Homo sapiens: one gene and its partners. The protein of the gene in region 2 purifies or fractionates together with the protein of the main gene of each other region. This does not show direct contact. Each region holds a gene or a part of one and is shown on either strand. Other genes may lie near its edges.

Region 1 (3,500 bases), on a different chromosome or scaffold from region 2:
CTATCCCTTATAACTCAGTCCCAACAAACACACAGAGGCATGACCCCAATCAGTAAGGAAGGTTTACCCTTCCACATCCCGTCAATGAGTGGAGAGAGGCCTTCTGTTCCTAACCCCGCACCCAAACTAACCATTGTGTTATCCTTCAAAATCAAGCCAGAATTACCTTTCTAAAGGGCGGATCCACATTATTTTCAGAGGCATCTGCCTCGAGACCACTTCGTGACTGCCTCTGTGTTCGTAGGATCTCAGGCCTTCCTCCACTTGCCCACCCAAGTCGATCCATGCAACCCCACCACGCCCACGTGGCAGTCCTCACTCCACACACGGTGGGTGAGTTCTGTGGATACGCAGGCATATTTGCCACCTCCTCCCCCTACTCATATGATTTCCTTCACTTGAAACACCTTCCATCTCTTCTGGATGCACAAGTGACCGAGCTGGGTGTGCCATCCTTGCCTTCTCCCTTAAAAACGCTCAATAACACTTCATTGCATTTTTCTATTTTTTTTTTTTAATTATTTTGAGATGGAGTCTCGCTCTGTTGCCCAGGCTGGAGTGCAGTGGCACGATCTCGGCTCACTGCAACCTCCGCCTCTAGGGTTCAAGTGATTCTCCAACCTCAGCCTCCCGAGTAGCTGGGACTACAGGCTTGCACCACCGCTTCCAGCTAATTTTTGTATTTTTACTAGAGATGGGGCTTCATCATGTTGGCCAGGCTAGTCTTGAACTCCTGACCTCAAGTGATCCACCTGCCTTGGCCTCCCAAAGTGCTGCGATTACAGGCGTGAGCTGCCGCGCCCGGCCTTCAGTGCATTTTTCTTTGTATGAAGGCCCCAAGGACAGTGTTCTTGTTAGACCCAATTTTGCACATCTGATGCTTATACTAATATTTGTTCACTAAGTGAATCTAAATATTAATGCCTTCATTGTCAATAGAAATAAGTCATAAGGTAAACAAAAGGCCCTTCTTCATCAAATTAACCTCTTCTCAGGGAAGACACTGAAACTATTTCTACAGATTATCATCTTACCTTTTAATAACAAATTTAATTCGATTGCCCACTTGAATGATTTTTTCCAGCCTTGGGATTCCATACCATGAGGGACTTCGGAAAGGAATGTTTTCTGGCAGTCCTTCCACGTACAGATCATTCGGGTGTGCCTCAAATTTTTGGTACGGTACAGCCTTGGCTTCAGTGCTCCCCAAGGCTTCCGCTGGACAAAAATCAAAGCAATTCGGGAGACTACATTTGTATTGAAATCAGATTTTAGTACAATCCAAAGAAAGGCACAGGTCAATTTTGTTTTACTTGAAAAAAACTCTTTCTAGAAACATATTTATTAACTATTGAATAGACTTAATACAGCAAAGACAAGTAGAGATGACCGATCATCAACAGCCAGATTTGGGCAGATTTAAGTGTCCTGGTCCTAAGACAATCTTAATAGCTCTGAGATCTTTAAAAGATTAAAGTTTGTTTTTCAATATCCTTAGGAAGAAAAGAGAGAAAGAAAATCATCATGGACAATAGAGGACACAACCTAAATACTATCTGGAAGCAGCCTTTTGCTACTAACTGTTCAGGACCGTAATTACCCTCCTCCATCGGCTATGGCAAACTGGTAACACATTTCCGACTACACTTTCATCTGCGTGGCAACCAGATCAATGTTCTTTACCCCTTCAACCTCACGAGCATGCCATTTTAAAGGAAATAACTTTCCACAGATAATTCATAGAATGGGGGCCGGGCGCGGTGGCTCACGCCTATAATCCCAGCACTTTAGGAGGCTGAGGCGGGTGGATCACCTGAATTCAGGAGTTTGAGACCAGCCTGGCCAACATGGCGAAACCCCATCTCTACTAAAAATACAAAAGTTAGCCAGGCGTGGTGGCGGGCACCTGTAATCCCAGCTACTTGGGACGCTGAGGCAGGAGAATTGCTTGAACCCGGGAGGAGGAGGTTGCAGTGAGCTGAGATCGTACCACTGCACTCCAGCCTGGGCAACAGAGCAAGACTCCTTCTCAAGAAAAAAAAAAAAACCCAAAAAAAAAAAACAGGGAAAACTAAAGCTGAGTCCTATTCACTGTATTTACTTTCCTAAAATAAAACAACATTTAAAAAAATGTTACTCAGTAATACATTTTAGTTGAAGGGGTAATTAAAAAAAACAGACTTACCAAATTTTTTGCAGAAAAGCTGATCCACCATCTTTCTTAATTTAGTGATTCTGGCATACCATTCTTCCTTTACTGTCAAAATAACAGTAATACAAGTGTTCTCAATTTAATGGGTTTAATAACTTGATTATTAAACATTATTACTATAAAATAAGAGGTATAACTTTTCCTTTTCCTATGGCCAAAATTATTTCTAAGATTCGTGGCCAGGTGCAATGGCTCACACCTGTAATCCCAACACTTTGGGAAGCCGAGGCAGGCGGGTCACTTGAGGTCAGGAGTTTGAGACCAGCCTGGCCAACATGGTGAAACCCCATCTCTACTAAAAATACAAAAATTAGCCAGGCGTGATGGCGCACGCCTGTAGTCCCAGCTACTCATGAGGCTGAGGCAGGAGAATCGCTTGAACCCAGGAGGCAGCGGTTGCAGTGAGCTGAGATTGCGCCATTGCACTCCAGCCTGGGCAACAGAATGAGATTCCGTCTCAAAAAAAAAAAAAGACAATAATAAAATTATTCCTAAGATTCTAGAATGTATTTATTTCTAAAACAATGCTGACACTGTACAAAAAGAGGAAGAACGAAACATTCATTAGAGCTAGGAAAAAGCAAAACTCAGTGTATTCAGGAACAGCTAGCAGGTAACACTTGCTACAGGAAGATTAGGGCTATGATCTTGCTGCAGTCCTTCTATCTTAGTAAATATCAACAGGGTGATTCCATTCTGTTTTATCCTCACTCCACTCCACTCCAGAGCAAAAGCAAGCAAGAAAATCAATTATATTTCTATTTATTTTAAAACACATCTAACAGGCTGGGCGCGGTGGCTCATGCCTGTAATCCTAGCACTCTGGGAGGCCGAGGTGGGCAGATCACCTGAGGTCAGCAGTTTGAGATCAGCCTGGCCAACATAGTGAAACCCTGTCTCTACGAAAAATACAAAAATTAGCTGGGCATGGTGGCAGGCACCTGTAATCCCAGCTACAGGGAGGCTGAGGCAGGAGAACTGCTTGAACCCAGGAGGCGGGAGGTTGCAGTGAGCGGAGATCGCACCACTGCACTCCAGCCTGGGCAACAGAGCAAGATTCCCTCTCAAAAAACAAAACAAAACAAAACAAAATACATCTAACAATTAAGAGATGATATAAATGGCTCCATGCTCTAAAAGGAAACCTTCTTATGTCCTGCATATCATGGACATTCAATGAATGCTTGTTCCATTGACTCGTGTAGACTTCAATAATAAACTGTTCAATGCATTATGCCAGATAAATCTTGCATCAAAAGTAGAACAAATATTGTTCTTTTACTTCTGT
Region 2 (3,938 bases):
CTCCGGCTGCACGGTCACCAGGTTGTTCCGTGACAGATCCAAGGTGAAGTTGAGGGTGCTGCAGTTGGGCCTGAAGTCTTCAGAGCTGGGAGTGTCCACTGGGGCCGGAGCAAGGTCCCCAGGCTGCAGCCAGACCTTCTCCCCTCCATCTGCCTCCCCCATGGTGGCTGTCAGCTCCGAAGCTCCGCTGATGCGGTTGTCCGACAGGTCCACGTAGCGCAGGCCAGGGAAGGCCCTGAAGATGCCGAGCTGGGCCTGGTTGATGAAGTTCATCTGCAGACGCAGAGTCTGGAGCATGGGCAGGCGGGCCAGTGGCCGGAGCGTGGTCTCATCGAGTGAGCGGAAGAAGATGCCGTGCATGTCCAGCTCCTTCAGGGCGACCAGGCTCCCGAAGGAAGGGGCCAGAGACAGGTGGGCAAAGGACACCCTCTTTTGGTAATTGAAGGACAGGTTAAGCTTGCGCAGCTGTGTTAGGCCCTGGAAGGCCTTGGTTTTAGTGATGCATTTGTAGAGGAAGTTCTCACTCAGGTCCAGCACTCGGAGGTTTCCCAGCCCACGGAACCAACTGGCATTCAGCCAGGAGAGAGAACTGTCCTTCAACACCAGGCCTTCAAGACGGCTCAGGTGGCTGAAGGTATCGGGATGTAGCTGGGGGAAGTGACGAGGGCACTCCATGCAGGGGTTGGGAGCGTGGTCGCAGCGGCGGCAATTTCCGCCCACATCGAGCACACGCAGGGCGGTCAGATTGGCCAGGTCCTCAGGCGCCAGTTTGACGATGCGGTTGTAGGACAACAGCAGATACTCCAGGCTGGAAGGCAGGTTGCGGGGCACCACAGTGAGGTTGTTGTACTTGAGTGACAGGTGGGTGAGGTTGCCCAGGCCAAGGAGGGCACCCGGGGCCACCTCCAGTGCCTGCCTGCAGGGGTTCTTGTAATAACAGTTGCCGTCCATGAATAGGAAGCGCAGGGCATGCAGGCCGGCGAGGCTGGCAGAGTCTAGCATCAGGATGTTGGTATGGCTGAGGGACAGGGATATGAGGGATTTGGGCAGCGCAGGCACAGTCATGATGTTGTTGTAGCTCAGGTTTAGCTCTTCCAGGGTGGGCACAGCCAAGAAGGTGCTGGGCTCGATGGTCATGTGGCAGGGGAAGTGCATGGGGCTGAGGCCAACCGGCGGGCAGTTCCACTTGAGGTTGAGATGCCGCAGGCTGGGCAGGTGGGCAAAGTCAGAATCATGGAGGTGGTGGATGCGGTTGGAGGACAAGGAAAGGCTGGTGACATTGCCACGGGGTGCTGCCATGGAGAAGTGGGGCACAGACTTCAGGAACAGCCAGTTGCAGTTCACCAGGCCGTGGGGCTGGAGCTCACAGGGTAGGAAGGCAGGCAAGGTACCCAGGGCCAGGGTCATGGCCAGCATGATGGCCTGCACCAGGAGAGACAGCGGGTGCAGGGCGCTGCGGCAGAAACCCTGTGGGGGTGGGAGGGCTGTGTGAGTGGCCGGCCCCCAGCTCTACCTCCACCCACTCCACTTCATGGGCATCTTCTAGCATCTTCCAACCCCTCTCTCCAAGCCCTACCTGCAGAAGTTCTTCCTGGCTGCCAAGCCCCATTCCCATCCCCCATGGCTTGTGGGGAACCTGAACTCAGTCTCAGACCCAGTCTTGGACTCAGAATTAGGCTTCAGAACCAGGACTGAGACCTAGAATCCAGACTTATGATCTACAGCTTTCACTTAACCAATCCCTGGCTATACCAGGCCAGGCAAGGTGGCCCACGGCCCCCCCTGGTCTCTCCCCGACTTTCCCTTCCTGCTCCTGAGCAAGGTGGCAGCTGGCTCCCTCCCCTCCAGCTGCCCTGAAATCCGCTCTCTGCCCTCCACCAGCCACCCCACAACCCCTTCCTTTTCCTTCGGCCAAGATTCAGGCAGGTGTGAGAGTCTCCCACTATGGCCCAGGCCGGCTGCCTCCCAGGGACCCTGGCCAGAGGGCACTGCACAGCTCCATCACTCTCTGCCTGCCTCACCTAGCCCGAGAGCCTTTGCCTTATGGGTCAGAACAGATGGAGAGAGGGGTGGCCTGCAAAGTGCCAGACAGAGCCAGCCCCAAGCTACAGGCCCAGTGAGACCCAAACCCAGGCTCCAGCCCCAGCTCCATCAGTGCCTCAGTCTCCTCGTCCCCTCTGGGGGTTTGGGTCTCATTGCTCAGAAGAGGGCTTCAGTGGCTGGGCACGGTGGCTCACACCTGTAATCCCAGCAGTTTGGGAAGCCGAAGTGGGCAGATCACCTGAGGTCTGGAGTTCAAGACCAGCCTGACCAACATGGAGAAACCCTGGCTCTACTAAAAATACAAAATTAGCCAGGCATGGTGGCGCAAGCCATAATCCCAGCTACTTGGGAGGCTGAGGCAGGAGAATCACTTGAACCCGGGAGGTGGAGATTGCAGTGAGCTGAGATCAAGCCACTGCACTCCAGCCTGGGCAACAAGAGCGAAACTCCGTCTCAAAAAAAAAAAAAAAGAAAAAAGAAGAGGGCTTCGGCTCTGAAGTCTTCAGGATTCAGTGAGTGTCCCCAGGGCCATGTGGGTGACAACCCGTCACTGTTGCTTGCAGCTGCCAAGCCCACTTCTTTCCCCACCCCTTCCCAGGATATCCCCTTCCCCAGGGGACTGAGAGCTGTTGTCCTACCATGCTGGGGGGCAGGGGCTTCTCCAGAGGGTCTGGCGGGCAGACTGGACAGCAGCTACAGGGAAGGATGCTTCACACTCGAGGTCCCTTCCCACAGGGGCAGCAGCGGCTCAGAGAATAGAGGAAGTAAGATTTTTATACCAGCCTAGTAGCTCCCCCTCCACTCCACCCTGCCCCCAGTGAGGAGGACAGGGTCCCATGAGTCAAAGGCCATTTGCATAGTCAAATGGCAGACAGCTCCTTCACCCCTTCCTCTTTCCACTCCCCTCTCAGACAGCCTACATCCCATGAGGGCCTCACACCTGTCCTCTACCAAGCCCAGGGAGGAGCTAAGGCCCAGAGCTCAGGCAGAGAGCAGGGAGAGATGGGAATTCTGGATAGCACCAGTAGCGGGTACACCTTGCTGGGCACTCCCCATTCTAAGAGGACACTTCCACCCTCAGGTCTTGGCTCCTGCACCACAGCTGGTGCCCTCAGGACAGCGGCTGCCGACTTGTCCTTTTCTGCCCTTGTAGGCACCATCTCCAGAGTTCTGCAGGGCCTCATGCGTGGAGGGCCAGGGTGTAGCTTGAGCAGGAGGCTAGGCTGCACCTGCCTTCACCACAGCCTTGCAACATCTTCCGGAAACAAGACCTCCTCCTCCACATTCCCAGAGCCCCTGGGGCCCCATCAGAGCACACACCACGTCACTCCAGATGGGGCTCCTAGAGGCCAGGTGTGTGCTGGCCCAGCAGGGCCGCCAGCCAGTCCTCCCCATCAGTTCTTCCCACTCTCCTTCTGATCTAGGTGAGGAGACTCAGATTCCTCGGGCCCAAAGCCTTGGGTGACCCCGGGCCCCTCAGCAAGTTCTGCTGGGTCCACCATGCTGAAGGGTGTGCCCACAGCCCACCGTCCCCATGTCCACCAGCCCCCATCCTCTCTCCTAGACCCATGCAGGTGCCACCTCCCTTCTGGCTGTCCTGCCCTGCTCTCTGCCCTCCAGGGGCTGGTCACATTCAGCCCCTAGAGGGAACTGTTCAAACCTAAGTCACACTAGGTCCCTCCTCTGCTCAGACCCCTCCCTGGCTGACTCTGGAGTCAAAGCCACAGTCCACAGATGGCCAACAAGGCCCTATGGGACCTGCCACCCGCTGTTCCCCTGAGTGCTCTCCAGGCCCACTGGCCTGCTTGCAGTTGACTGTGTAGCCCCTGGGCATTCTCCTGCCTCAGGGCCTTGGGATGTGCTGTTCCCTCTGCCTGAAAACTCCCCCAAGTCTC
Region 3 (3,311 bases), on a different chromosome or scaffold from region 2:
AGCAGCAAATGGGGTTTCCAGTCGCCCTGGATATGTGGAGCTAACCCAGATGACCCCGAAGCCCTCCAGGCCCAGCCCCCACGGCTGAGAACACAGAAGGGCTGGCTGCCAGGGCCGCGGGATTAGTGCCCTCACTCGTGCACATGACCGGTCCCAGCAGGGGGGCCGCGGGGGCTGGGTGCACATGGGCCCTGAGCCTGGTACAGCCTGGCCAGGCGGTGCGGGGCGGGGGGTGGACAGGCAGCCCCTGTCTGCCCTCAGCTGGGGCCCGGGGCTCTGGTCACGTCCTGCCTCCCCAGGTCTCCTCAGCTGGGCTGGTGCCTGCTGACTCGCACAGCCCTCCCCTCCCACTGTGGGGACAGGACACCCCGTGACTCATACGGTGGGCAGCCTGAAGACCCCGAGACGCAGGATGGGCAGAGGGTGTGGCCAGGGTCTGGGACCGCACGCACCTGGCCGCAGCCTATCAGGGACTTTGCCTGGCACAGCCAACAGAGCAGGCAGGTGGGTCCCAGCTCAGCCCAGCCTCCCAGCAGAGCCTCCCGGCTTCTCAGGACCCTTCTGTTCTCGCTCCACCCACCCTGCCTGTGCACACCTAGCTTTGGTTACCAAAGGGCCTGGCCTCCACCTGGGACAAAGGGCCAAGCAGCCAGCCCCAACCTGCCCAGATGGAGGTGTGAGCTGAGCCCAGCCCCGCCTCTCCCTCCTCCCTGCACACAGCTACCTGCCTCCCATCCCCCACGCAGCCCCAGCCAAGGCTCCCACGGGTGGCCGGACCCTAGACCAGGCTGCACGAGTGCAATGCCCAGAGCAGGCTCCCGGGAAGCTGGGTGCTCCCTGAGTCAAGTGTGGCCCCAGCGCCAGGCACGGCCTCCACCCATGAGAAAGCTGAGGGAGGAGCGTCCAGGCCGCTCCTGGGGTTCCCGGCTTCAGAAGGACCACCTAGGCGGCACCTATGGGAAGAGCTGGCGGAGAGACGAGAAGGAAAGGAAAACTGACAAGAAGGGACTCAGCCAACAACAGTGAGAGCCTCTGGCCACCCAGGATCTGCCTGCACAGGGGTAGAGGCAGGGAGGAGCCCAGCCTGGGGCTTGGTGCTGGCCAGGAGGTGGTGTCAGTAGGAAGGGCAGATGTCAGGGTGGCTCTTGGGTCTAAGGATCAGAGAGCGAGGCCTTGGGAGTGGAGGCGGAAGTTGCACAGCAGGTGAGGGCGGACGGCCCTGGGTGTCCAGGACTGAGCCCTGGGGACACTGACACGCTCCAGCTGGGCAGAGAGCCAAGAGGGGAGGAGGGGAGTAGGGCAGAGGGGACGGGAAGGGGCCGCCAGACAGGTAGGAGCCAGGCCAGGTGGTGCTCCACGAAGAGGAAAAGCTACAGCGCCGAGTCTCAAGGGAGGCAGGTGTGAGGATGAGAATGGGTGTCCCACCCTCCAGGAAAGCAGCCCGGGCGTGGCTGCAGCACACAGCAGTCTGCTCCAAGCTCAGCCCTGCAAGACGGGGCACCTGCCGCTTCTGCCAATGGATAACTTAAGTGGGCCTGTGCCTGCCAGGCAGGCCCCCACCCCGGCACACAGGCCAGCAGCTCCCCACTGCCCAGAGCAGGGCTGCACCCCTCGGAGGCGGGCAAGGGTATCATACCCTGTGCAGGCACAGCCAGCCCTGGGGCAGGCCCCTCACCGACTCCCACCACCCAGACAACTCCACTGAAGAGCTGCCCTTCACCTGTACCCCAGGAAAAGCAGCAGCACCGCCAGCCGCTGAGGTGCACAGTGAGCCGTTGGCCCACAGTCAGGTCCTGCTAGACTCCGGGCCCTGCAATCCCTGCACTCCACCCCCACGCCCGGGGGTCACAGCCAGTGGTCCCAACCAAAGGCTGGGGTCAGCACGGTGGCTCACGCCTGTAATCCCAGCACTTTGGGAGGCTAAGGCAGGCGGATCATCTGAGGTCAGGAGTTCGAGACCAACCTGGCCAATATGGTAAAACCTCGTCTCTACTAAAAATACGATAATTAGCTGGGCATGGTGGCAGGCGCCTGTAATCCCAGCTACTTGAGAGGCTGAGGCAGGAGAATCGCTTGAACCCTGGGAGATGAAGTTTGCCCTGAGCCGGGATCCTGCCACTACCCTCCAGCCTGGGCGACAGAGCAAGACTCTGTCTCAAAAAACAAAAAATAAAAAAAGGCTGGCCAGGGTGGTCAGACAAGGCCAGGCACAGGACCCGCAGGGGCACCTCGCACCCCCACCAGTGAGTGCTCCTGGCCCAGGGGCCACAGAGTACATGGGACAGCCCTGCCCCACAGCCCACCGTGCCGAGGCCAGCAAGCCATTCTGAAAGGCAGGGCAGCCCCACGCCTCTGTCCCCTCCTGATGGACATTCTGGCTCTTCCCAGGCAGGGCAGCTGGCCTGTACCCAGGCGGGAAGTCACAGCCAGCAGGTCATGCTGCTCTGGCAGGGCCCTGCCCGGGCCACCTGGCCATGCCAGGTATCGTCCATCTGGACCCCCACCCCTTCAGGCTGGCCCGAGCTCCTCCCTCCTGCTGGTCCAGGGCCTGTTTCCCAGGCTCAGCCTCTCCCCCACTGCATCTTCCTGCTCCTGTTGGCCCTCCGGCCCCCACCCTGCCCTTCTGACCCTAACCCAGCCGCAAATGACCCCCACAGTTCTGTCCCTTCTTTGCTTTTTTCTTTTTGAGACAGAGTCTCACTCTGTCGCCCAGGCTGGAGTGCAATGGCGCGATCTCGGCTCACTGCAAGCTCCGCCTCCCGGGTTCAAGCAATTCTCCTGCCTCAGTCTCCTGAATAGCTGGGATTATAGGCGCCCGCCACCACGCCCAGCTAATTTTTTTATATCTTCTTAGTAGAGACGGGGTTTCACCACCTTGGCAAGGCTTGTCTTGAACTCCTGACCTCGTGATCCACCCGCCTCGGCCTCCCAAAGTGCTGGGATTACAAGGTGTGAGCCACCGCGCCCAGCCCAGTTCTGTCCCTTCTGAGGGCAAGATGGCCAGACTCTAGGCAGTGGCCTCAAGTCCCAGGAAGAAGCCAGGCTCCCAGGGATGGCCACACAGGTTAAGGGGAGGGGTTCTAGAAACAGAAACCTGAACTCCGTACTCGCCCCACAAGCCCCATGACCCCGTCTGACTCCCAAGCTGAGGCGCAGTTTCTCTCTACAAAGGGGGAGCTGTCCCCACTGCCACCTCTGGGGCAAGCCCAGGAGGTGCCCACCTCACACAGCAGCCAGGGCCAAAGGTACAGACGCAGGGGAGGGAGAGGCAGACAGGAGCTGGAGGAGAGAGGCTGTGGCTATCAGACTGA
Region 4 (3,500 bases), on a different chromosome or scaffold from region 2:
CGCCTCCTGGGTTCAAGCAATTCTCATGCCTCAGCATCCCCAGCAGCTGGGACTGCAGGTGCGTGCCATTTTTAGTAGAAGCGGGGTTTCACCATGTTGGCCAGGCTGGTCTCGAACTCCTGACCTCAAGTGATCCACCCACCTTGGCCTCCCAAAGTGCTGAGATTACAGGCATCAGCCACCACGCCAGGCCTGACAATGTCTTTTATTTATTTATTTATTTATTTTTACTTTTTGAGATAGAGTCTTGCTCTGTTGCCCAGGCTGGAGTGCAGTGGTATGATCTCGGCTTGCAGCAATCTCTGCCTCTCGGGTTCAAGCGATTCTCCTGCCTCAGCCTCCTGAGTAACTGGAATTACAGGCATGTGCCACCATGCCCAGCTAATTTTTGTATTTTTAGTAAAGATGGGGTTTCGCCATGTTGACCAGGCTGGTCTCGAACTCCTGACCTCAAGTGATCCGCCTGCCTTGCCCTCCCAAAGTGCTGGGATTACAGGAGTGAGCCACCGCACCTGGCCAACAATGTCTTTTAAAAAATAAAATTGCTCTATGACAGTCCCTTCAAAAATGTAATTAAAAGAAGGATAAAAATGATCACTCTCCCTCTCCACTCCAGCTATTAAGTCTTCTCATTTTCACTAATCAGCAACAGTAATGCTCCCTATTTACTCCTCCAGTACGGGTCTCAAATTCATATAACTCCAAGCCAGGCAAGTACCATCAATTAAGCACAGCAAATAAGGGGGGACTATAAACTCCACCTAGGAGCTTACACACCGAGTTTCAACCCCAAAGCTGCTACTACAGTCCATCTCTCCATCCTGTTGTTGCTCTGAGAAATGCAGCACTGGCGCTACAAGATATTCCAATTTTTCCTAACAGAAGCCACAAATCCAAAACACACAGAATTTTCCATTTTTTAAACAGTGCAGGCCAAATTAAAAGTACCTGCAAACTGAATCTGCTTGTCTATATACAATAATACTCCAGGAACACAAGCATCCGTAAGAATCTCAAATATTTGACTCCTAAACCCTAAACAGAGCTCCCCACCCAGACACTATTACTCAGACTCCATGTTTAAGATGAATTATCCACGTAGTAAAAGAACATTAGTGGTAATCTTTCTCCCTTGAGGATGGATTCTGAGGTTCATTTAAAAAAATATATTGCTATTATAATATACTATTTTAATTAAAAAATCAAACCAATTAACATTGAGGTGGATGAATGAAATTCCTAACTTGAATAAATCTGTAAACATATTGTCTACATATTATAATTCATTTTGTAAAATAAAATGTTTTACAAACATTGTAAGTTTGTTAACTTGGGTAAAATGAAATGTCAGTCAGCTGGGTCCTTAGAAAGCAACCACTTGAGCAACTTAGCATCTCTAGGTGAAACATCAGGAACTGGCAGTCCAGAGAGGCTGATTCACTTTAGCAACACGAAAAAGGCAAAATAAATGAAGGGGGAAAGAAGTAATAACAACGTTAACTGGCAAGATATTTGTTATGTAATGATTACAAATGCCAAAGGATCGTAAGACTCCATACAATTCTCTTTACTGCTTTAGCTCTACTAAGAAGATTAGATAGCTAAAAAAGAATAAACTAGGCCGGGCACAGCGGCTCACACATGTAACCCCAGCACTTTGGGAGGCCGAGGTGGGTAGACTGCCTGAAGTCAGGAGTTCGAAACCAGCCTGGCCAACATGGTGAAACCTGTCTCTTCTATTTGGAAACACAATTCTGCTCAATTAAAAAAGAAATGCCACGTGGGACAGTACCCAAAGATTTAGCCTCATGATTTACTTTTAAAAGGATCCTCTAAAATGACCAATTTAAGAAAAAAAAATCAGCTTTATAGTCATACTCTTCTCAAGAGTTCTAGGTTAGTTTGGAAAGATATCCCACATATTTACTATATCGATGGCATGCTTTTAAAAAATAAATCACTTAAGAACAACATAGTTTGTGTGTGTGTGTGTGTGTGTGTGTGTGTGTGTGTTTAAAGGTGGCCTGGCCTTATCAGAGCTGCGTTTCAACACTTGAAAGCTGTGTGACTTTAAGCAAGTTATTTAACTACTCCGAGCTCCATTTCCTCATCTGTAAAAAAAGATGAACACTAGCTAGTTTAATTTTCCCTGTGAGAAGTATGCTATATCTTAGATGTATTGTAATTCATTCTTATCTGAAACTTGAATCAGTCCCACATCATCACCAGTTTGTTTATTTATTTATTTACTTATTTATTTTGGAGACGGAGTCTCACCCTGTCGCCCAGGCTGGAGTGCAGTGGTGCGATATCGGCTGGCTGCAACCTCTGCCTCCCAGGTACAAGCCATTTTCCTGCCTCAGCCTCCAGAGTAGCTGGGATTACAGGCGCCCGCCACCACGCCCAGCTAATTTTTGCATTTTTACTAGAGACGGGGTTTCATCAGGTTGGCCAGGCTGGTCTCACACTCCTGACCTTAAGTAATCCGCCTGTCTCAGCCTTACAAAGTGCTGGGATCACAGGCGTGAACCACTGCACCTGGCCCATCACCAGTTTAAAACACTGGACAGAACAGCTACACAGACAAGAAGTCATCACTTGCTGAGGCAGCCCTTTTCATCGTCATACTTGCTATTTTCTTCTACTAAGCTAAAACCGGCTTCCTGGCTACTTCAACCCCATCAATCCCATTCTAGTTTAAATCTTACAAAGCGCCGGGCAAGGTGGCTCACACCTGTAATCCCAGCACTTTGGGAGGCTGAGGTGGGAGGATCACTTGAATGAACCCAGGAGTTCCAGACTAGCCTGGGCAACAAAGCAAGACCTATCTCTACAAAAAAAATTTTTTTTTAATTAGCCAGGAGTGGTGGCACACACCTGTGGTCCTAACTACTTGGAAGGTTGAGATGGGAGGATTGCTTGAGCCCAGGAGGTCGAAGCTGCCGTGAGCCATGATCCTGACACTGTACTCCAGCTCTGGGCAACCGAACAAAATCCTGTCTCAACAAACAAACGAAAAACACAAAAAAATTACTAAGTATAGCTAATTCAATTCTCACTAGACTCTAAGCTTCCTGAGGGCTGAGTTCAAGTATTGTTCAGTACTGAAATCCCAGCATCTACAACAAGGATAAGCATATAGCAGGTGTACAATAAACATTTACAGATTGAGTGATATGCTCTGTGCAGCTGACTGAGCATTGAGATGCCATCCAGTATAAATAGCACAGATGTGCATACTTCTGGAAATGATCATTTAATGCTTCACATTTAGAAGTTGAAATATCATAACCAAATTCATGCTGTTTTTAAAAAAATCCCTTCAAAGTGAAAAGCAATTTTGCCATACTTTTAAATGGTTGTTATTCAATGATACAGATAATAGTTTTTCAAAGTAATAAACTTCTCAATGCCTCCATAACTTATTCATAACTTACTTCAGATTTACCTAAATTCCAAGTCTACATTAAAAAAAAAATCTCAAAATGATATGTAATCTC

The links.
Region 1: the proteins of TLR9 (region 2) and GTF2I purify together in Homo sapiens (affinity purification with mass spectrometry, with the first as the bait; one large-scale study listed by BioGRID). This does not show direct contact.
Region 3: the proteins of TLR9 (region 2) and TPRN purify together in Homo sapiens (affinity purification with mass spectrometry, with the first as the bait; one large-scale study listed by BioGRID). This does not show direct contact.
Region 4: the proteins of TLR9 (region 2) and PDZD8 purify together in Homo sapiens (affinity purification with mass spectrometry; one large-scale study listed by BioGRID and IntAct). This does not show direct contact.

What each region holds. Positions count from the first base shown.
Region 1 is NC_000007.14:74,734,218-74,737,717, reverse strand, and holds part of GTF2I (general transcription factor II-I), read right to left. Parts: intron 2,258-3,500; coding exon 2,186-2,257; intron 1,219-2,185; coding exon 1,035-1,218; intron 1-1,034. UniProt on the Homo sapiens protein: Interacts with the basal transcription machinery by coordinating the formation of a multiprotein complex at the C-FOS promoter, and linking specific signal responsive activator complexes.
Region 2 is NC_000003.12:52,222,846-52,226,783, forward strand, and holds the start of TLR9 (toll-like receptor 9 precursor), read right to left. Parts: upstream 2,801-3,938; 5' UTR 2,685-2,800; coding exon 2,682-2,684; intron 1,468-2,681; coding exon 1-1,467.
Region 3 is NC_000009.12:137,194,431-137,197,741, forward strand, and holds part of TPRN (taperin), read right to left. Parts: intron 1-3,311. UniProt on the Homo sapiens protein: Essential for hearing. Required for maintenance of stereocilia on both inner and outer hair cells. Necessary for the integrity of the stereociliary rootlet.
Region 4 is NC_000010.11:117,368,941-117,372,440, forward strand, and holds part of PDZD8 (PDZ domain-containing protein 8), read right to left. Parts: intron 1-3,500. UniProt on the Homo sapiens protein: Molecular tethering protein that connects endoplasmic reticulum and mitochondria membranes. PDZD8-dependent endoplasmic reticulum-mitochondria membrane tethering is essential for endoplasmic reticulum-mitochondria Ca(2+) transfer.